4 separate regions of the Homo sapiens genome follow, and regions 2, 3 and 4 are each linked to region 1. Evidence: fine-mapped expression QTL. A gene starts in region 1. Each other region holds a variant in brackets. All regions are shown on one strand. Distances are from middle to middle. Region 1 holds the start of NADK (NAD kinase). Region 2 holds the start of MRPL20 (mitochondrial ribosomal protein L20). Region 3 overlaps GNB1 (G protein subunit beta 1). Region 4 overlaps NADK (NAD kinase).

Region 1 (5,192 bases):
AGCCAGGCCACCTGAAGCCAACTTCCCTCTCTCCTCAGCCTCCCCAGGAGCAACCTGTACCCCAGTGCACCCCATCCTGCTCCATCCCTCATGGCCTCCGTTCCCCCTTCTCCCTCCACCCTCCCCATCCCTGCTGACCCCCAGAAGAGGATGGGTCCAGGTTTTGGGGGTTCTGAAGTAAACAACATGGGAGCCATCCTTAAAGAATACAAAAAACAATGCGAAATTATGTGAAGAGTCCACTGCCACCTTGAGCAATGGCAGCCCTGGGGCTGAGGAAGGTCAGGGCAGGGGATGCCACCCACTGCTGCCCCATCCCTGGGGCCTGGTCAGGCAGGAGGGGGCCTTTCCTGACCCCCAATCCCTTGAAGGCAGAGCCTCTTCCTGTGCACCATCTGGCAGAAGCCCCCATGATAGCCCTGGACCCTTCTGTTCCTGCTGCGGGAACATCTCTTCCCTTTGGTCTCAGCCCAAGCAAAGCTGCCTCTTGGACCATTCTGGGTGCCCTAAGGAGCCTTCCCAGCTTTGGTCTTAGTTATTGCTGGCCAGGCCTGGGGTGAGGTGTGGGTGTGAGATCTTGGCCCCTGAATCTTCAAGGTCATATCCGGGGCCTGCCCTGAGAAATTGCACAACCTGTCAGCTGAAGGAAACCACAGCCCTGGTTTTGTTTTCTCATCTCTGAAACAGGGAAGCTCTCCTGCAGGCAGTGCCCAGGCCCAGGGTAGACAAAGGGTTTTCATGCCACAGACGGGGCAGCTGCTGGAGCTCCCTACACAGCGGGACACGCGAAGGGCACCTGCTGTGTGACCTGGGGCCCACGACAGTCACTGGTTGCCTCTGCAGAAGCAGTTGACTGCCTCCACTCTAGAAGATTCTACTGAGGCCTGGCTCAGTGCCTGGCTTGTGGGTGCGCCATCTAGATCAAGCATTATTATGCTAATGATCATATGCAAAAACTCAGCTCACGCATTATTATGTTAATGATCTTATCCGCCCCCTCTCCCCCCGCCAAAGAAAAAGAACTGGGCAGCTCAAGGCCGCTTCTGTGGGTGTGGCTGGTGGTCACTTTGAAACAGTTGGGTTTGCAAAATAACCCCGGGAGAAGTTACAGAGCTTAAGAAATCCCCCAAGTTCTCATGATCCTTGCTTCCCTTTCCAGTCACCCTTGGTGCCCTGTACTTCACTGTGGTCCTGAACTGAAGAGCTGTGTTTTTCAGGAAGACTTGGCCAGGCCGTGTTCCGTGTCTCTGGATTCAAGTCCCAGGAGTCCTGACCAGAGAGCAGGTATGCGGGTGTGGGGAAGGGCTGCAGAGGACTCAGGTCCACACCGACCCTGGGCCAGGTGATCACACAGAAAGTATAGACAGGGACTGAACCTCAGAAAACAATGGCTGGGCCAGGTGCAGTGGCTTACGCCTATAATCCTAGTACTTTGGGAGGCCGAGGCGGGTGAAGTTTGAGACCCAGCCTGGGCAAAATGGTAAAACCTCATCTCTACACACACACACACACACACACACAAATATATATATATATGAATGAAGTAGTCGAGTGTGGCGGGACCTACTTGTAGTCCCAACTACTAGGGAAGCTGAAGTGGAAGGATCGCTTGCACCTGAGAGGTCAAGGCTGCAGTGAGCCGTGAGCCCGCCACTGGACTCCGGCCTGGGGGACGAATGAGACACTATCTCAGAAAAACAAAACAATGTCTGGCACCTGGGGGACCAGCAGGTTAGAGCAGCTGGTCGTGCATTGCCAGTTTACCTGACAGTGACTCGAGAGCTGAGAACTGGGTATAGGGCACATTATTGGGATATTTGAGGCCTGAAGGCGCTGATGAGCAGCCACCAGTTCAGCAAGTGCGGGCTGGGTGGGACCCGCAGTTCCAACAAACACTACAAAGTCCGCTCCTGTGGCTTTGGCCTCCTCCCCCAACTCCCCGAGTCCTCCAGCCTGTGGGGTGCGCAAAACACGGCTCCCTGGTCCCCCTAGAGGTGCCCCAGGCCACCGGGTCCTCCCTCCACTGCCAGCCTTGGGATCCCAAGCGTAGACCTCTGAGGACGTTCGTGGGCGTGCAAGGCGCACCTGGCCGCTAGAGGTGGGCGTGAGGCCGATCGCGGTTCCCCCAGGCGCAGGGCCGCCCTCCCAGCCCCGACGGACAGCCCCGAGGGAGCGCAGCGCTGCCGCAGCTGCTCTAAGTTTCGGTTCCCAAATCCGGCTCGGCCCACACCGTGTCACAGCCCGGTAATTAGGGAAGCGGCGGCGGGCGGGGCCAGCTCTCGCGGGGCACCTGCACTCCCCTGAGCCGGCCCACGTGGTCCGGGAGGTCCCGCCCGCGGTGGCGGTGAGTTGGGGGCGGGACGCCGGGCTGGGATCACAATGTCGGGGGCGCCTAGGCGTAGACGTGGCGGGCGGACCCGGGGGCGCCCTCCGGACGCGGCAGGTGAGTGGGGACGGGAGCCGGGGGCCGCCCTCCTCGGGGCGCCGACCCCCGCCTACCCGAGTCGCGGACGCCCGCCCCTGTCCCCGCTGCCCGCCTCCACTCCCTGGTCACTGCTCTCCACCGCGATTCGCCCCTCTTCCCCACCGCCCGCCTCTTTCCCGCCACGCCCGCCGCCTCCCGCCCGCGCGGGGTGTCCCGGCGCCGGTGGGACCCGGCAGACGCGCGGGACGCCCCACGTGCGCGGCAGCGCGCATGCGTGGCGGGTGCGCCTGCGCAGTGGGCGGGCGCGGCGCATTGCTGCTCGGCGGCGCCGGCGCCGGGGTCCGGGCGGCCATGGGGCAACAGGCGGCCAGGGCGCCAAGGGCCAGGTAGCGACGGCTGGCGGCGGCGCGGCGGCGGGGCCTGCGGGCTCGGTCCGGCATGTAGACGCCCCCGCAGGCGCCCGCGGCAGCGAACGGTGAGTGAGCAGACCCGGCCTGCCGTCCGCCTGGGGTCGCCCGCTGCCTGGGGTCATCGCTGCCCGCGAGCGCGCGGCCAGGCGGGGAGACACCAGGCCGGCCCTGCCCATCTGGCCTGCTGAGGAGGCCGTGGAAGTGCTGACGGGCCACCGCTCCGTCCCGAATGGGGCACCAGCACGGCCCAGGGCGAGGCTCGGCCTTGGGGACGGGTCTGAGGGAGGCCGCTGTCCGGCCTGGCTCTCCCGGGCGGGGAAGGTGGGGCCGTCCAGCCCGGACCGCGCTTGTCAGTCGCCTCTGCTTGGGCGGCCAGGTCCTCGGTGTCCGGCCTTCCGTGGGTGGTTTCAGCAAGCAGGAGGGGTCTTTGACTCGTGAAAGCTTAGAGGGGCCCAAACCTAGTGGGAAAGTATGAATAAAAGATTCTATACAGCAGTATTGGCATGGAATTCTCTAAAAACACATCTCTGATTTAGTGCCCAGTACTTGCCAGAAAATTCCAATAGTCTATGGTGATGTTCCTACAGGCGGCTGCCATCCAGTAGGTCAGATGTCAGCACCGGCCTTGAGCTCTAGGTCGTCGTTTTTTTTCTTAATTGTGGGAACAGGGCGTGCCCAGCTCCGAAGGCCTGGTGGAGTTTTCCTTCCCAGGCCAAGGACCACCCCCACCCTCCCATCCCTCCTCCCCAAGCAATGAGATTCCTTTTGGCTTCGATTCCGAGTAACAAGTTATTTTTCCTTTCTTGTTTTGGAACACACTAAGTTTTACATTCAAAAGTTCATTATTCTTGGCTCTTGATGGGAATACATTTCAAAACTCTTCTCTTCTTGTGTTCCATGTCTCTCTGACAGCCTTAGTTGGCCTGAAACTGACATGTTTGCCTTAATAAGTTTTTTTTTCCTCCTGATGTCATCTTGTCTAAGAAGCTAGTTACTTTAACACCTTGTTAGATAATTCCCTTCAAGTACTTATTCCCCTGAACATTGTCCTCTCAAGCCTCTGGAAATTTCCTGTCCCCTTGGAACTTCTCTGTAAGGCCTGTTTGCTCTCAGCAGTGACTTCACTGGGACTTTTGCAGCCACTTTATGGTGTTAGCACGCTGATTCCAAGCTACTTGAGGAATCACAGGTGCCACCGCAGTACCCAACAAAATAGCTTCATCATTTGGAGGTGTCCTCTCGAGATGTTTCTGTGTGTATATGTGTGTGTATGTTAGAAACAGGGCCTCACTCTGTCCTCCAGGCGTGTTTATGGTGGCATGATTATAGCTCACTGTAACCTCAAATTCCTGGGCTCAATTGATCCTCCCACCTCAGCCTCCTGAGTAGCTGGGATTACAGGCCTGCACCACCACACCTAGCTGATTTATAAAATTTTTTGTAGAGATAGAGTCTCACTGTGTTGTCCAGGCTAGTCTCAACCTCCTGGCCTCAAGAGATCCTCCTGCCTCCACTTCCCAAAGTGCTGATCTTACAGACGTAAGCCACTTTGACCAGTCTTTTTTTTTTTTTTTTTTTTTTAAGACAGAGTCTAGCTCTGTTGCCCAGGCTGGAGTGCAGTGGCACAATCTCGGCTCACTGCAACCTCCACCTCCCGGGTTCAAGTGATTTTCCTGCCTCAGCCTCCTGAGTAGCTGGGATTACAGGCGCCCACCACCACGCTCAGCTAATTTTTGTATTTTTAGTAGAGACGGGTTTCACTGTGTTGGCCAGGCTTGTCTCGAACTCCTGACCTCGTGATCAGCCCACCTTGGCCTCCCAAAGTGCTGGGATTACAGGTGTGAGCCACCACAGCTTGCCTCACTTGGACCAGTCTTTTTGTTTGTTTGTTTCATTTGAACTTGGAGGTGGGTTTATGTTGTTTCAGTTGGCAGCCTGCTGTTTGGTTCCAAAACAGCATTTTCTTCTTGAAACAACTGCTGTCAGCAGTTAGATTTCCAGGCTAGCACAAAAACCTGTTTGACTCATAAATCCTTGTAGTGAGGGTGTCCCAGAAAGTTGGCCAAGTCAAGAGCAGTTCTTGTGGAGTGGAGGCGGTGAACAAATAGGGGGAAAGTGGCGCTCGTGATGAAAACGGAAAACAATAGTTGATTTTATTGAGCTTCACGCTTGAGGAAATGTAGGTCTCACTTGGAAAATTAAGAGGCAGGTGGGTGTTTGCGGGACTCGACGGCCTTGCATCTGGATTACCTCCAGTCTGCAGGTGTGGTAGGATGACAGCAAGAGGGAGTGTTGAGCACACAAGCCCAGCACTTGGGGGGAGGCTGTGTCATGGCAGGAAGGTACAGGGCCTCCTC
Region 2 (5,000 bases), 370 kb after region 1:
ATTGCTGCCCGCGGGTCCCACCTCCAGCCCTAAGGCGGTTTTTCCCCATCTCAGTAGATGGAACATACAATCGGGTTTTATACTGAGACATTCCATTGCCCAGGGACAGGCAGGAGACAGATGCCTTCCTCTTGTCTCAACTGCAAGAGGCATTCCTTCCTCTTATACTAATCCTCCTCAGCACAGACCCTTTACGGGTGTCGGGCTGGGGGACGGTCAGGTCTTTCCCTTCCCACGAGGCCATATTTCAGACTATCACATGGGGAGAAACCTTGGACAATACCTGGCTTTCCTAGGCAGAGGACCCTGCGGCCTTCCGCAGTTTCTGTGTCCCTGGGTACTTGAGATTAGGGAGTGGTGATGACTCTTAAGGAGCGTGCTGCCTTCAAGCATCTGTTTAACAAAGCACATCTTGCACCGCCCTTAATCCATTTAACCCTGAGTGGACGTAGCACATGTTTCAGAGAGCACGGGGTTGGGGGTAAGGTCACAGATCAACAGGATCCCAAGGCAGAAGAATTTTTCTTAGTACAGAACAAAATGGAGTCTCCTATGTCTACTTCTTTCTACACAGACACAGTAACAATCTGATCTCTCTTGCTTTTCCCCACAGTGAGTGTCCCCATCGCTCAGGAAATGCGAGTAATAAAAATCTCCAATAACAACAGCTTCTCCATGTCTCCAGTCAGTCATGTCCATAAACTGAAAATCCTGCAGGTAGGCCAGTTGTGTCTGTAATCCCAGCACTTTGGGAGGCCAGTTTTGAGACCAGCCTGGGCAACATGGTGAAACTCCATTTCTACCAAAAATACAAAAATTGGCCAGGCATGCACTTGTGGTTCAGCTACTCAGGAGGTCGAGGTGGGAAGATCACTCAAGCCCAGGAGGCAGAGGCTGCAATGAGCTGAGATGGCGCCACTGCACTCCAGACTGGGTGAGAGTGAGACCCCATCTGAAAAAAAAAAAGTAGTTTTTCTTCTTCTTGTTTTTTGAGACAAGGTCTTGATCTGTCACCCACGCTAGAGTGCAGTGGTGCGATCTTGGCTCACTGCAGCCTTGGCCTCCCGGGTTCAAGCAATTCTCCCACCTCAGCTGGGATTACTGGGGCCCGCTACCACGCCCGGCTACTTTTTGCATTTTTAGTAGAGATGGGGTTCCACCATGTTGGCCAGGCTGGTCTCGGATTTCTGACCTCAGGTGATCCACCTGCCTCGGCCTCCCAAAGTGTTGTGCAGAGCCACTGCACCCGGCCTCCTCTTTTTTTTTAAGATGGAGTTTTGCTAGTTTCCGAGGCTGGAGTGCAATGAATGGCGGGATCTCGGCTCACCGCAAACTCTGCCTCCCGGGTTCAAGCGATTCTCCTGCCTCAGCCTCCTGAGTAGCTGACCATGTTGGTCAGCCTGGTCATTTAAGGTCGGGAGTTCGAGACCAGCCTGGCCAACATTGTGAAATCCCGTCTCTACTAAAAATACAAAAATTAGCTGGGAGTGGCGGTGTGCGCCTGTAATCCCAGATACTCGGGAGGCTGAGGCAGGAGAATCACTTGAACCGGGTAGGCAGAGGTTGCGGTCAGCCGAGATCGCACCTTTGTACTCCAGACTGGGCGACGGAGCAAAACTCCGTCTCAAAAACAGAAAAAAACAAAACAAAACAAGAAACACAACAACAAATGCAGTGCGTCATCCTAGACTGAATCCTCAACAGGGAAAAAAAGGTATAAAAGACATTTGAAGCGAGTTAAATCTGGAGTGTGGGCTGGGTCCGGATTTTGACCATTCTACGGTGTGGTTCCTAAGAGTAAATACACAGCAAAGTGTTTAGGTGTCTCCAGCGTCTCAAATGGTTTAGGAAAAAAATCCATTATGTTTATATTTACAGAGAGAATGATTCAAAAATGGAGCAAAACGTAAATAGTAGGTGAATTTGGTTCGAGAGTATTAAACAAATGGAACAAATGAAAACAGCTGGCACATTTTGGTAGTGAACACTGGGGAGTTTTCCTTGTACTTGTATTCCAACTCTTCTATGATTTAAAAAATATCCAAGTATAATAAACTGTTATAAAGAAACTGCACACCCCCAATTTTTCGATAATATAGCAGAAATATAAAATTACACATAATATAAAACTTCTTATTTTTTTGGGACAGACTCTGGCTCCGCTGCCCAGGCTGTTGTGCGGTGGTGCAATCTGAGCTCACTGCAGCCTCCACCTCCAGAGCTCAGGCGAGCCTCCCGTCTCAGCCTCCTGAGTAGCTGGGACCTCAGGCGCGCGCCACCACCGCTCCCGGCTAATTTCTTTTTGATTTTTTGTAGAGATGGGGTCTCACTATGTTG[C/T]CCAGGCTGGTATTGAACTCCTGGACTCAAGTGTTCCTCCCCCCTCGGCCTCCGAAAGTGCTGGGATTACAGGCATCAGCACCACAGCGATCACATTTACCATTTCGAAGCTGAGAATTTCCAGGCATGGCGCGGTGGCTCAGGCCTGTAATCCCAGCAGAAGCCAGCAGTCCGAGAACAGCCTGGCCAACGCGGGAAGACGCCCCCTCTACAAAAAACACAAAAAATTAGCCGGGCGTGGCGGCGCGCGCCTGACGTCCCAGCTACTAGGAAGGCAGAGGCCGCGGCGAGCCGAGGTCGGGCCGCTGCACCCCAGCCAGGGCGACCGGGCGAGACCCCGTCTCAAAATGAGTAAGTAAACAAAGTGCAAGGTTCAGAGGCAACGGGCACTTTCACACCGATGCGACCATCTCCACCTCGGTTCCTGAACATCCTCGTGGCCCCAGGGGGCGGCCTGCCCCTCCCCGCCCGCGCCGCACCCGAGCTCCCCGGCCGCGGGGCCCCCGACCCGGGTCCGCTGCCCTCACGGTGCCCTCGGAGCCACAGCTGCGGCCGGGGCCGTGCTCCGGGACGGTCCGCGTGCGCTGCTGTTTATCCATCGTCCGCGAATAGCCACGGGCGCTGCGGCCCCGTTCTCCTTTCAGTCCCCGCCGCGGCCCCACATCCGCTCCCCAACACGCACCACCACCGCGAGTTCAGGAGCACAACTGGGCACCCGCGGGCTGACGGGAGACGACCTTCGCCCCGGAAGTATCGCAGGGGCTGACCCGGAAGCGCTCGTGACCACCATTTCCGACCCGGGCAAGATGGCAGCGGCGCTGCGCGTGCGTTGTTGAGTGTTCGGGACGCCGGCCTGCAGGCGCCATGGTCTTCCTCACCGCGCAGCTCTGGCTGCGGAATCGCGTCACCGACCGCTACTTTCGGATCCAGGAGGTGCTGAAGCACGCCAGGGTGAGTGCCGCCTGCCCGGCCTGGGCACTGGGCGCCCGGGGTATCCCGCGGGCCAAGGGGCGGCCGGCGCGGGCCCCGCTGACAACCCTGGTTTCTCGTTTTCTGTCCCAGCACTTCCGGGGAAGGAAAAATCGCTGCTACAGGTTGGCGGTCAGAACCGTGATTCGAGCCTTTGTGAAATGCACCAAAGCCCGATACCTGAAGAAAAAGAACATGAGGACCGTAAGCGTGGACCCGGGACACCCGCCGGCCAGCGCACTCGCGGCCCCTGCGTTTCTGCGCCGCGACCCAGCTAGTGTGCAGCCGCCCGGCCACCCTCAGCCCCTTCCTTTCATACCTTGCTTCGAAACTCCGACAAATTATGTCGCCCCGCAGGCAAACTGTGGGACATCCGTTCTCCCGCCCCGCCGCCACCCCCACTGTCACCCCCTGCTCCAGCCCCTCGCCCGGGCCACTGCAGAGCCGCCTTGACACTCTCCCTGCGTCGCCAGCCACCGCCCTAGTCGCTGCTGCTCTCATCCCTCCGGTGGCTTCCCTTCCCTTTGGCAGCTGAAGTCAACCCAGCCCCTTGCCAACCCTCCAGGGCTACTATCTGCTGCCGTGGTGCTCCTCGAAGAGACCACGCCTGCTGCCAAGCTCTGCCCACCCGGAACCCCCCGCATTTCTGGGAGGCTGGCGCCTCCACTCTGTCCACGTGCCGCCTCATTACTGCGCCTCACCACTCCCGTCTCAGCCTCATGAACCTAGCATCTAACGTACCCCGGTTTTTTTTTCTTACCCCGAGACGGAGTCTCGCGCTGTCACCCAGGCTGGAGTGCAATGGCGCGATCTAGGCTTAATGCAACCTCGTCTCCCGGGTTCAAGCGATTTTCCCGCCCCAGTCTCCCGAGTAACTGTGACTGCAGGTGTGCGCCACCAAGCTATTTTTTGTATTTTTAGTAGAGACCGGGTTCCGCCATGTTGGTCAGGCTGGTCTCGAACTCCAGATCTGAAATGATCTGCCTGCCTTGCCCTCCCAAAGTGCTGGGATTACAGGCGTGAGACACCGTGCCCAGCTGGGTTTTTGCTGTTTTTAATTTTGAAACAGGGTCTTGATTTCGCTTAGGCCAGAGTGATGGCACCATCATAGCTCACTGATTTTGCTATTTACTTTTAGAAAAATATTCTTTAGATCAATTAGAGGCTTTGCTGGGACATAACATCCAGAAGTCATTTTTAAGTATCTTCATGTTTTCTTATTTCAGCTCTGGATTAATCGAATTACAGCTGCTAGCCAGGAACATGGACTGAAGTATCCAGCGCTCATTGGGAATTTAGTTAAGGTATGGGTGAGTATGTGGGTCCCACTGAAATTCTGGACATCTGCAGAAACCATCATGCGGGGCGTGGTGGTGCTTCCTGTAGTCCCAGCTAATCAGGAGGCTGAGGCCAGAGGATCCCTGGAGACTGACTTCTGGGCTGTAGTTTGCTATGCTGATGGGGTGTCCATGTTAAGTGTGGTATCAATATGGTGACCTCTTGGGAGCAAGGGACCACCACGTTGCCTAAGGAGGGGTGAACCAGCCCAGGCTGGAAACGGAGCAGGTCACAATTCCCATGTTGATGAGTGATGAGATTGTGCCTAGGAATAGTGCCAGCAACAGCCTGGGCAACATAGTGAGACCACTCTCTACAAAAAAATAAAATTTGCTGGGTGTGGTGGTACAGAGACA
Region 3 (5,192 bases), 96 kb before region 1:
TACTACTGATGGTGTTTGACTCTGCCTTCATTCCTGAAATGCTTCTCCATTGACTGGGTGTGGTGGCTTATGCCTATGACACTTATCACTTTGGGAGGCTGAGGTGGGAAGATTGAGACCAGCCTAGGCAACATAGTGAGACCCCATTTTTGCATGTGTGTGCGCTTGCTCACTGGCTCGTGCACGTGGCCATGCACGCTCGCTCTCTCTCTCTCTCTCTCTCTCGTGTGCACATGCATGTCCTCTCTCTTGCTCTCTCTTTTTCTTAGCTGGGCCTGATGGTGTACACCTGTAGTCCCAGCTATCCAGGAGGCTAAGGTGGGAGGATTGCTTGAACCCAGGAGTTCGAGGCTGCAGTGACCTGATTGTACGACTGCACTCCAGCCCTGTCTCTATTAAAAAAAAACAAGTCCTTCTCCAAGCTGATCTGGGCACTTGATTTCTACCCTTGTGGTTCTGGCTTAGTAAAGGTCTTCAGAAATGACACAATGTTAGTTTCCTGTGGCTGCTGTAGCAAATCATCACAAGTTGGATGGCTCAGAATGAATTGATTCCCTCAGTTCTGGAGGACAGAAGTCTGAAATCAAGGTGTTGGCAGGGCCCCAGTGCTTCTGAAGGCTCCAAGGGAGGACACTTCCTTTCTTCTTTCTGGCTTCTGGTGGGTGCCAGCAGTGTGGCTTGTAGAGGAGTCACTCTCTACCTCTGTTTTACGTGGGCTTTTCTCAGTGTCTCTACTCACCTTATAAGGACATAGTTATTAGATTAGGGCCACCCTAATTCAGTATGACCTCGTTTTAACTTAACTAATCATACCTGGAAAGACGCTCCAAATAAGGTCACATTCCCAGGTTCCAGGTAGACATGAATTTTGGGGGGGGGGACACTGTTGAACCTGCTAAAGTTCCTAGAGCTTCATCCTTCGCCCCTTGTGTTTCTAGCTCTCTTGCCTTCCATGTCTTCCCATTCCCCTTGTGGCCAGCCTTGTGAAATGAAGTCTCTGTTGGAGGTTGAAGAAACTTGTAAGATAATTTACATAGAAAAAGGGGCCGGATGCAGTGGCTCACTCCTGTAAGCTCAGCACTTTGGGAGGCCAAGATGAGAGGATCACTTGAGCCCAGGAGTTTGAGGCTGCAATGAGCTATGATTGTGCCACTGCACTCCAACCTGTGACAGAGCAAGACCCCGCCTCTAAAACAAAACAAAATAGAAAAGGTAAAGTGTCCTTGGCCAGGTGTGATGGCTCACACCTGTAATCCCAGCACTTTGGGAGGCCACAGCGGGTGGATCACTTGAGGCCAGGAGTTTGAGACCAGCCTGACCAACATGTGAAAACCCCGTCTCTGCTAAAAACACAAAAGTTTAGTGGGGTGTGGTGGCGTGCACCTGTAGACCCAGCTACTTGGGAGACTGAGGCATGAGAATCACTTGAACTGGAGAGGTTGAGGTTGCAGTGAGCTGAGATCACACCACTACACTCCAGACTGGTAGGCAGAGCAAGACTTTGTCTCCAAAAAAAAAAAACCAGAAAAAGATAAAATGTCTTCTAAGCATGGGCCCCCAACTCCTGGGCTGTGGTCTCTTAGGAGCCGGGCTGCACAGCAGGTGAGAGGTGGGCAAGCGAGCATTCCCACCTGAGCTCCACCTCCTGTCAGATCAGCGGCAGTGTTAGATTCTCATAGGAGCGTGAACCCCGTCATGAACTGCACACGCGAGGGATGTAGGCTGTGCACTCCTTATGAGAATCTAATGCCTGATGATCTGAGGTGGAACAGTTTCATCCCAAAACCATCCCCTCTGTCTGTGGAAAAATTGTCCTTCACAAAACCGGTCCCTGGCATCAAAAAGGTTGGTGACCGCTGCTGTAAGGATTCTGGATGCTTCACAGAACGAAGCTCAGGAGGCACTTTTTTTTTGTCTTTTTTTTTTGAGACAGGGTGTCACTCTTTGTCACCCAGGCTGGACTGCAGTGGCACCATCTCAGCTCACTGCAACTCCGCCTCACAGGCTCAAGCAATTCTCCTGTCTCAGTCTCCCAAGTAGGTGGGACTACAGGCGTGTGCCAGCATGCCCAGCTAATTTTTGTACTTTTTTTTTTTTTTTTTTTTTTTTTTTAGATGGAGTCTTGCTCTGCTTCCCAGGCTGGAGTGCAGTGGTGCAGTCTCGTCTCACTGCAACCTCTGCCTCCAAGGTTCAAGCAGTTCTCCTGCCTCAGCCTCCCGAGTAGCTGGGACTACAGGTGCACACCGCCACGCCCGGCTTTCTCTGTACTTTGGTAGAGACGGGGTTTCACCGTGTTGCCCAGGCTGGTCTCCAACTCCTGAGCTTAGGCAGTCCGCCCGCCTCAGCCTCCCAAAGTGCTAGGATTACAGACACGCGTGAGCC[A/G]CCACGCCCGGCCTAATTTTTGTATTTTTAGTAGAGACAGGGTTTTGCCATGTTGACCAGGCTGCTCTTGAATTCCTGGCCTCGTGATCTGCCTGCCTCGGCCTCCTAGAGTGCTGGGATTACAGGCGTGAGCCACCGCACCTGGCCAGGAGGCGCGTTGTGTTTATGCTTTGCTAGTCTTTCTTTTGTGGGAACTGAAGAGTGTTGTCCTCGGTAGCTTCCACAGGGATGGATCGAGGCTGCTGCCAGCATTTGTTCCACTGACTGTCCTTGGGGACCAGTAACCTAGATCAGAAGTCAATGAGAAGACATAAAGAATGCCTCCAAAGCAGGGAATCTTTCCTTCCCCTGTGAAAGTGCTGAGTCCCCTAGAGGCAGGTATGCGTTCCCTCTTGTATTTAGTCCCCACGCTGCCTGCCTGGATACATTGGTGGTTGTGACAGCTGGGGTGTGCCACAGGGATCCTGCTCCACCATGGAGAATTGTCCAGTCCAGCAGTCTCGGTGCCAAGTTTATTTAAGATGGAGTCTTGCTCTGTCGCCCAGGCTGGAGTGCAGTGGCACCATCTTGGCTCACTGTAACCTCTGCCTCTGGGGTTCAAGCAATTCTTCTGCCTCAGCCTCCTGAGTAGCTGGGATTACAGGTGACCCGCCCACCTCGGCCTCCCGAAGTGCTGGGATTGCAGGTGTGAGCCACTGCGTCCAGTCTCGGCGCCAAGTTTAAGAAGAGCATATTGTCATGGCCTTACATCAGTTATATGCTCCTGGGTAACAAACTACCCCAAAATGAAGCGACTTAAAACAGTAAGTCCTTGTTCATCATCATGTGGGAGTATGGATGTGGGCAGGGCTCATCTCTGTTCACTGTGCTGGCCACGCTAGCAAGGGCAATTAACAGTTGGCAGGTAGGCTGGCTTGTGCTTCCCATTGCCCTCACCCACATGGGCTTTCAGCCAGGGTGCCTCTGATCTCCTCAGCCTGCCTCTCCAACAGTCTAGCTCAGGCTTCCTCCCATAGTGGCTGAATTCCAAAAGGGCAGGAGCAGAGTTTGACAGGCTACTTGAGGACATGTTTAGAAGTCACAGTGTCACCTCTGTTGCATTCCCTTGCTTATTGCAAGTTATGAGGCCTAGCATAGGCCAGGAGTGCTGCCTCATGCCTGTAATCCCAGCCCTTTGGGAGGCCAAGGTGGGAGGATGGCTTGAGGCCAGGAGTTTGAAACCAGCCTGGACAACATAGTGAGACCGCATCTCTACCGAAAATGAAGAAAAAAAAAAAAACAAGGCTTAGCACAGGCTTGGAGAGTAGGAGATAGACTCTGGTCCTTAATGGTGGGACTTGCAGAAACCGTGGCCATTTTTCATCACAGCCTTTCCTATACTGTGTGACCTCAAGAACTTCCTGCTTTAGGATGCCCAGTTAATAATATGGTATCTGTGGGATGGAGTGAACTCTTTAACAAATATTTACCAAGTACTTACTTTGAGCAAGACACTGTGCTTGGTGATGGTTGAGTACCGAGAAGTTGCAACTGGTGGTTCATTCTCTGTGGGGAGATGGCGAACTGGAAGAAGCGAAGTTTGGGCCTGTGGTAGGTGCTGTGAGCTGTTGGGTGGAGAGGGCACTTGGTTTAGGGTATTGTTTAGGGTATTTAGAGTAAAGGCCTGAAGGATGAGAAGGAACCAGGTAGGCAAGGAGCCCCTATGCTTCAGGTGGAGAGGGCAGTGATTGCAGAGGCCCTGCGGAAGGGACAGCAGGCGAAGCTCAGCAGAGGTCCTGCGGAAGGGACAGCGGGTGAAGCTCAGCACACAGGAGCAAAGCTGTAGGGCAGAGGTAGGGGTGGAAGCCAGGCCTTGGCCACACGGCCTCAGGCAGGTGCCAGAGGCCCAGTTTGCCCAGGACAGTCTTGATTTATACCAGGTGAGGGTCCTCGTGCAGATGGTGCATTCTCTAGTTTCCAAACTGGCAGAGAGCTTGGATGTTTTCCTTGATGCAGTGGGAAGCCGTTGAAAAATTTTAAGCCTCAAGTGACAAAAGGTGAATTTTAAAAGATTGTTGAGGCTGGGTGCAGTGGTTCATGCTTATAGTCCTAACAGTTTGGGAGGTTGAGACAGGAAGATTGCTTGAGCCCAGGAGTTCAAGACTCTGTCTCTACTTAAAAGAAAAAATTAGCTGGGCATTGTAGCATACACTTGTAGTTCCAGCTACTGGGGAGGCTGAGGAGGGAGCATCGCTTCAGCCCAGGAGTTGGAGTTTGCAGTGAGCTATGATCACACAACTGTACTCGAGTCTGGGCAACAGAGCGAGACCCTGTCTTAAGAAAAAAAAAAAAAGAAAAAAGATTGTTCAGATTGCTGAATGAAAAATGGATTGTCGGGGGCACAGATTGAGACAGAGGTCATTTTAAGGAGACTGTTGATGAGAAATGGCGTGGTTTGGCTGAGGATGGAGACTAAGGAAATGGGAAGAAATGGGTGGTAGAGTCAGCCAGGTTGCTGATGGACCGGGTGTAGGGGAGTAGGGAAAGGAAGGAGGCCAGGATGATTTCTGTGTGTGCTTTGCACATGTAGAGGGTGGTGATGTTGAGCACTGAGGGGAGGCAAATCTGTTGGCTGTGCAGAGCCATGCCTTGAATATCTGAAGCTCAAAATGGGTATAGGGCAACTAAGTGCCAACCGCCGGCTAACAGCCTGTTGGCCTGGAGTCCAGTCTGGAAGTCTTGGTCTTTCTGTTTTTGTGATGGTCGGTGGAGGGGTTATTAAAAGGAGAGGTGGGGTGCCCAGCTATTAGAGGTTAGATCGAGGAGACACG
Region 4 (5,192 bases), 24 kb after region 1:
TCTGACCACAGCGCCCGTGAGTCGGGAACCTCCCTGCAGGAGGGTGGGGTCTGCAGGTGGAATGAGCAGGTTGGCACTTTGCTTCCAGGAGAACATGATCGTGTATGTGGAAAAGAAAGTGCTAGAAGACCCTGCCATCGCCAGCGATGAAAGCTTTGGGGCAGTGAAGAAGAAATTCTGTACCTTTCGAGAAGGTGGGCTGTCAGCAGCTCTGTCCTTGGTTTCTCCAGCACAGTTCCCCGCCCCATTGGAAGCTTCTGGCACTGTTGCCCTTGTCATTGGTGTCTGCGCACTGCGCCACAGAGGGGCCACTGTGTGACAGCCTCTTCTTGGTTTTGCTTTGTGTTTCCTAGATTATGATGACATTTCCAATCAGATAGACTTCATCATCTGCCTGGGGGGAGACGGGACGCTGCTGTACGCTTCCTCGCTTTTCCAGGTGAAGCGCTGACATTTCCAGACCCACACCAGGTTCTAGTCTAGGTGCTGCGTAACGAGGGGCTCACAAGCATGGCTTCCATTGCTTTTCACCCCTTTATACGAGAGCAGTCACCTAGAGCGGCCAGCACTGAGGCCCATGGTGGCAGCCCGGTGGGGTGCGACGGTGGGGCCAGGGGCAGTGTGGACACAGTGCTACGGCTGGGGGTGGCCAGCGCCCGCCTGGGACAGCAGGGAGTGGCGCAGGGTGGTGGGTCCTGGGAAACGACCTCGCCTACTGGCCCATCCCCTCTGGGCCTCCCTTGAGCTCCTCTTCCTGGTTTCTCAGCAGCACAGCTCTCCCCTGGGGCTGTAGGGCCACGCTGTGTGGGGGACCCTGGCTCTGCCCTTGGCCCACTGCATGTTGGTGACACCGGAAATGCCCGCAGCCCGCCCTGCTTTTCTCCCCATCTCCCCATTAGCACCTGTGGGGCGCGAGGCTCCGACCCCAAGGCTGCCTCCCACCCGCCCTCGCCAGCTCCCCCAGCCCTCCGTGCCCAGGGGGCCGCTCAGCCCTGCCACCTTTGTTCCTCACCAGCTCCCCACACCAACCTTGGCCCTGGTGGCCCGGCCCACCCTGGCCTGCGACGTCCCCCTCCGCTTGTCCACATGGCCAGTCCCTCCTGCAGAGGGTCGGGGTGCTGTCCCCACAGAGCTGGGTCCCTCCTGAGGTGCTGCTGGAAAGCTGGGTGGTGCGGGGGTGCACGGCGTGGGCACTGAGTGACCTCTCCGTCGGCTCACAGGGCAGCGTCCCTCCGGTCATGGCCTTCCACCTGGGCTCCCTGGGCTTCCTGACCCCATTCAGCTTTGAGAACTTTCAGTCCCAAGTTACTCAGGTGATAGAGGGTGAGTTGGAATGTTCTGGAGCCCACAGGAGCTCTGATCATGGCGCTGCTGTCTCGCTTGCTTGCGGGGGGTTTATTTTCATTTAATGATGCATGGAGCAACATTTAAAGGTTTCAAGATTCAGGGATTTCTAAATCTTGAGTGGTTCAAACCTTTTACTGACACTGAGAAGTTTCAGCAGATCACAGGTTGAAGCTGCCATGTGTGTTGGGCAGAAGTGAGCTGATTCTCACTCTCAGAAGGCACAGAAGTGTCGGCCGGGCGCGGTGGCTCACGCCTGTCATCCCAGCACTGTGGGAGGTCGAGGCGGGCGGATCACGAGGTCAAGAGATGAGACCATCCTGGCCAACACGGTGAAACCCCGTCTCTACTAAAAATACAAAAATTAGCTGGGCGTGGTGGTGCGCACCCGTAGTTCCAGCTACTTGGGAGGCTGAGGCAGGAGAATCACTTGAACCTGGGAGGCAGAGGTTGCAGTGAGCCAAGATCACACCACTGCATTCCAGCCTGGGTGACAGAGTGAGACTCCATCTCAAAATAAAAAGAAAAAGGCACAGAAGTGTGTCAACTTGGGAGAAGAAAGAGCCCTCTGACTCCCACTGGCCTCCCTGGGGTGGGGCCCCTGACCCCACTGACTTCCCTGATGCATGCCCTCTGACTCCTGCTGGACCTCAGGGAACGCAGCTGTTGTTCTCCGGAGTCGGCTGAAGGTCAGGGTGGTGAAGGAGCTC[C/T]GGGGGAAGAAGACGGCCGTGCACAATGGGCTGGGTGAGAACGGCTCGCAGGCTGCAGGCCTGGACATGGATGTCGGGAAGCAGGCCATGCAGTACCAGGTGAGTGGAGGCGCCTCGGCCTCGGTGAGGGGCCCAGGGTGGGGCGACTTCGGTCCCAGGGATGAGGACCTTCCGGAGAGCCCGGCTGGGTGAGACGGAGGGTGTCTGCGAGCCGTGCGGCATCCCCCGCCCTGAGTGTGCAATGCTGTCGCCCCTCCAGGTCCTGAATGAGGTGGTGATTGACAGAGGCCCCTCCTCCTACCTGTCCAATGTGGATGTCTACCTGGACGGACACCTCATCACCACGGTGCAGGGCGACGGTAAGGCCCGCAGCACTGTCCTGGGGCCCTGAGCGTCCCTCGGGCGGGAGTGACGCCTGCGCCTGTCCCTGTCAGGAGTGATCGTGTCCACCCCGACGGGCAGCACGGCGTATGCGGCCGCGGCCGGGGCCTCCATGATCCACCCCAACGTGCCGGCCATCATGATCACGCCCATCTGCCCCCACTCGCTGTCCTTCCGGCCCATCGTGGTCCCCGCAGGGGTCGAGCTGAAGGTCAGAGCCAACGACACTCCTTTTCCGGTTTGTGAGTCATTTGACCCCGTGCAACACAAAGCCGGGACCTAGCACCCCGCTCTGCCATGCTGGCTCCAGCCTCAGACGCGGCCTCGTCATCCTAGGGCCATCCTGTGCCCCCTCAGATGCAAGCCTTCCCTTGCTGGTGCCCGAGTTCTGTCCATCAAGGTGCCCAGGGCCCGGGTCTGAGGGGCTTTCTGCCATTGTTGGTCTCTGGCGGTGCTGAGCTGGGCCGGTGCCTGTAGGACGTGCACTGCACCGTCCGCAAGGCAGGGTCAGAGCTGCCCAACCTTCGACCTCTGGCGAGCACTCAGGGGTGGGTGCCTAGAAGCGTCCTCCCCACAGCTGGGGGCCCACACCTCTCCCTGCTTGACCCTCAGATCATGCTGTCACCTGAAGCAAGGAACACAGCATGGGTGTCCTTTGATGGACGGAAGAGACAAGAGATCCGCCATGGAGACAGGTGTGGGCTGCATGCCGGGCTGGGCGCTGCCTGCCAACCTCCTCCCCGGGCCAGGCAGCGCCTGCCCTCTTGCGGTTGGCCTGTAGACACAGCTTGTCCCCTAGGGCACCACAGGGCCTGAGTCCCTGGGTCTTGCAGCATCACAGTCGGGGCACCCGTCCTGGGGGCAGCGGGTCGCATACGGTGGCACATGCAGGCCTGGCCCCAGCAGAGGCCTGAGGGTGTCCCCCCTGGCACTGCTGCCCACCCCCACCCACCTCCTGGGACCTCACCCCTGAGGGCCCTGGGGCAGAGTTTGTCAGTTCCCTGCACCGTCCCCTCCAGGACCTGGGATGGCTCTGTCCCAGCACCCATGGGGCACTGCTCAAGCCTGCCTCGGGGAGGGGCTGCCCGGCCCCACAGGAAAAGAGTCCCGGCCATTCCCAGGGAGGGAGGGAGGAAGGGTTCTTGGCCGGGGGTGGGCCTTTCTGGAAGCCCTGGCTCAGGCTGCTGCTCTCCCGTCCCAGCATCAGCATCACTACCTCATGCTACCCGCTCCCCTCCATCTGTGTGCGGGACCCCGTGAGCGACTGGTTTGAGAGCCTCGCCCAGTGCCTGCATTGGAACGTCCGGAAGAAGCAAGCCCACTTCGAGGAGGAGGAGGAGGAGGAGGAGGAGGGCTAGGTCAAGCCCCTATCCAGGCCCGAATCCTTCCGCTGCCCTCCAAGCGCCCTCTGGGGACAGACCAATCTGCGTGTGTCTGTGACCGCCTGTCTCAGTGGCACGGCCACTTCCTTTCTGTAGCTGGGTTAGAGCCTGGGTCTGCCTTTTGTCCAGATCAGCTGTTTTTTTAAAATGTCTGACTTTTTTTGCATTTCTAAAGAAGCGTGAGAAATGGGCTGGGAGTGCTTCTGTCCTGCTGACACCCCGCGGTGGGTCCCTGGAGCGCGGCCTCCAGCTGCCGCAATTTCCATGCCAGGATATTTTTCCGCAAATCAGTCGGTTGAAATTCAGAGGAGTCAGAATGACTCGACCTGTCCTTCAATGTTGATAATAAATGTCTCAGCCAAAAACCTTCCTTGAGCTGCCATGCTTTTCCCCTTGACCTGCACCTCTTCCCCTAAAACTTCTGCAGGGAAGCCCCTGGCGGAGGCGCCATTGAAAGCATGGTCTTGCCAGTGGCTGGCAAGGCGGTTTTGTTCTGCTCAGTTTCTGGAGAGGGTTGGATGCGTCCCCTGCCATCCAGCCCTCCCCGCTTGAGGCCAGCACTGAGTCTGGGACACTCAGCGGGAAGGGGGCTGGCATCGCCAGCGACCCACACATTCCTCACGTAGCTTCTGCTCCCAGGAAGGTAGTTTAAATCCTGTATATACTTTTTAGAGACTCTTTTAAACTTTCTGAAGTGCTGATGTACATACTTTCTCGTACACACTTTTGTGAAGATTTCAAGGGGAAGGGAGTCGTCTGCCATTCAATGTTTACATTTATGTTCTGCAAGACGCTGTCCTCAGGGACCATTAGGGGACCATTCTGTTCAGTGCGATCCTGATGGTCCGGGAGATGAGGGTTTCCGGGGCTAGTGATCGTGATCCCTTTTATTTGCAACTGTAATGAGAATTTTTCACACTAACACAGCGAGGGACTCAACACGCTGATTCTCCTCCTGCCTCTCCCGTGAGTCTCCAGCCTGCCCAGCACCGGCAGCTGTGGAGCACGTGGATGCTGCCTACCCCGGCGCCCGCGTCTTCCACGGGCACAGGTGTGTGGAGGCCGTGGTCGGACCCTGGTGTCCTGGTTACTGCTGCCCGGGTGTCTTTTTTTTGAGTAACTGCTCTCTGAGTTTTGCACACGAAGTTGCCCTCATCTGCTGGAGATCGATAAGGAAGGCACAAGACGTTCTCCTCTGCCCGTGAGGAGCTTCCCGCAGCCGCCTGGCCCAGCCTGGGCACGTTCTCCGAGGCATGTGTCTCCCTGCTCACCCTCGTCTGGGCACCTCAGCATCTGTGGACTTGAGCGTCCAAAAACCCTGAGTGTGATTCTGGGCAGCCGGCCTGGCTTGAAGTCCGCCATGACCCTGGGCACA

What was found. PIP is the estimated chance that this variant, and not a neighbour inherited with it, causes the effect.
Region 2: its variant is fine-mapped to the expression of NADK in anterior cingulate cortex (GTEx, PIP 0.99).
Region 3: its variant is fine-mapped to the expression of NADK in whole blood (TOPMed, PIP 0.97).
Region 4: its variant is fine-mapped to the expression of NADK in whole blood (TOPMed, PIP above 0.99).

What each region holds. Positions count from the first base shown.
Region 1 is chr1:1,775,997-1,781,188 of GRCh38, reverse strand. It overlaps NADK (NAD kinase), which reads left to right and starts at 2,719. Exons shown (of 12, transcript NM_023018.5): 1 at 2,719-2,900. RefSeq lists enhancers at 514-613, 624-693, 704-763, 774-943 and a silencer at 2,004-3,203.
Region 2 is chr1:1,405,419-1,410,418 of GRCh38, reverse strand. It overlaps MRPL20 (mitochondrial ribosomal protein L20), which reads left to right and starts at 3,126. Exons shown (of 4, transcript NM_017971.4): 1 at 3,126-3,288; 2 at 3,400-3,510; 3 at 4,533-4,610. The coding sequence starts at 3,202. It overlaps MRPL20-DT (MRPL20 divergent transcript), which reads right to left and starts at 2,071. Exons shown (of 1, transcript NR_170330.2): 1 at 1-2,071. It also overlaps the pseudogene RN7SL657P. RefSeq lists enhancers at 1-116, 117-1,004, 1,928-2,594, 3,052-3,181, 2,595-3,262 and 1 more and silencers at 2,682-2,871, 3,352-3,411. The variant C/T (reference allele first, on the strand shown) is at 2,338.
Region 3 is chr1:1,871,526-1,876,717 of GRCh38, reverse strand. All of the region lies in intron 1 of GNB1 (G protein subunit beta 1), which reads left to right. Among named protein-coding and RNA genes, the nearest start is that of GNB1, 17 kb to the left of the region's middle. The variant A/G (reference allele first, on the strand shown) is at 2,383.
Region 4 is chr1:1,751,505-1,756,696 of GRCh38, reverse strand. It overlaps NADK (NAD kinase), which reads left to right. Exons shown (of 12, transcript NM_023018.5): 5 at 89-194; 6 at 354-439; 7 at 1,221-1,323; 8 at 1,999-2,153; 9 at 2,314-2,413; 10 at 2,489-2,646; 11 at 3,048-3,130; 12 at 3,637-5,192. The coding sequence ends at 3,793. It overlaps LOC112268218 (a long non-coding RNA gene), which reads right to left. Exons shown (of 2, transcript XR_002958243.2): 2 at 4,955-5,192. Among named protein-coding and RNA genes, the nearest start is that of NADK, 24 kb to the left of the region's middle. RefSeq lists an enhancer at 3,044-3,573. The variant C/T (reference allele first, on the strand shown) is at 2,055.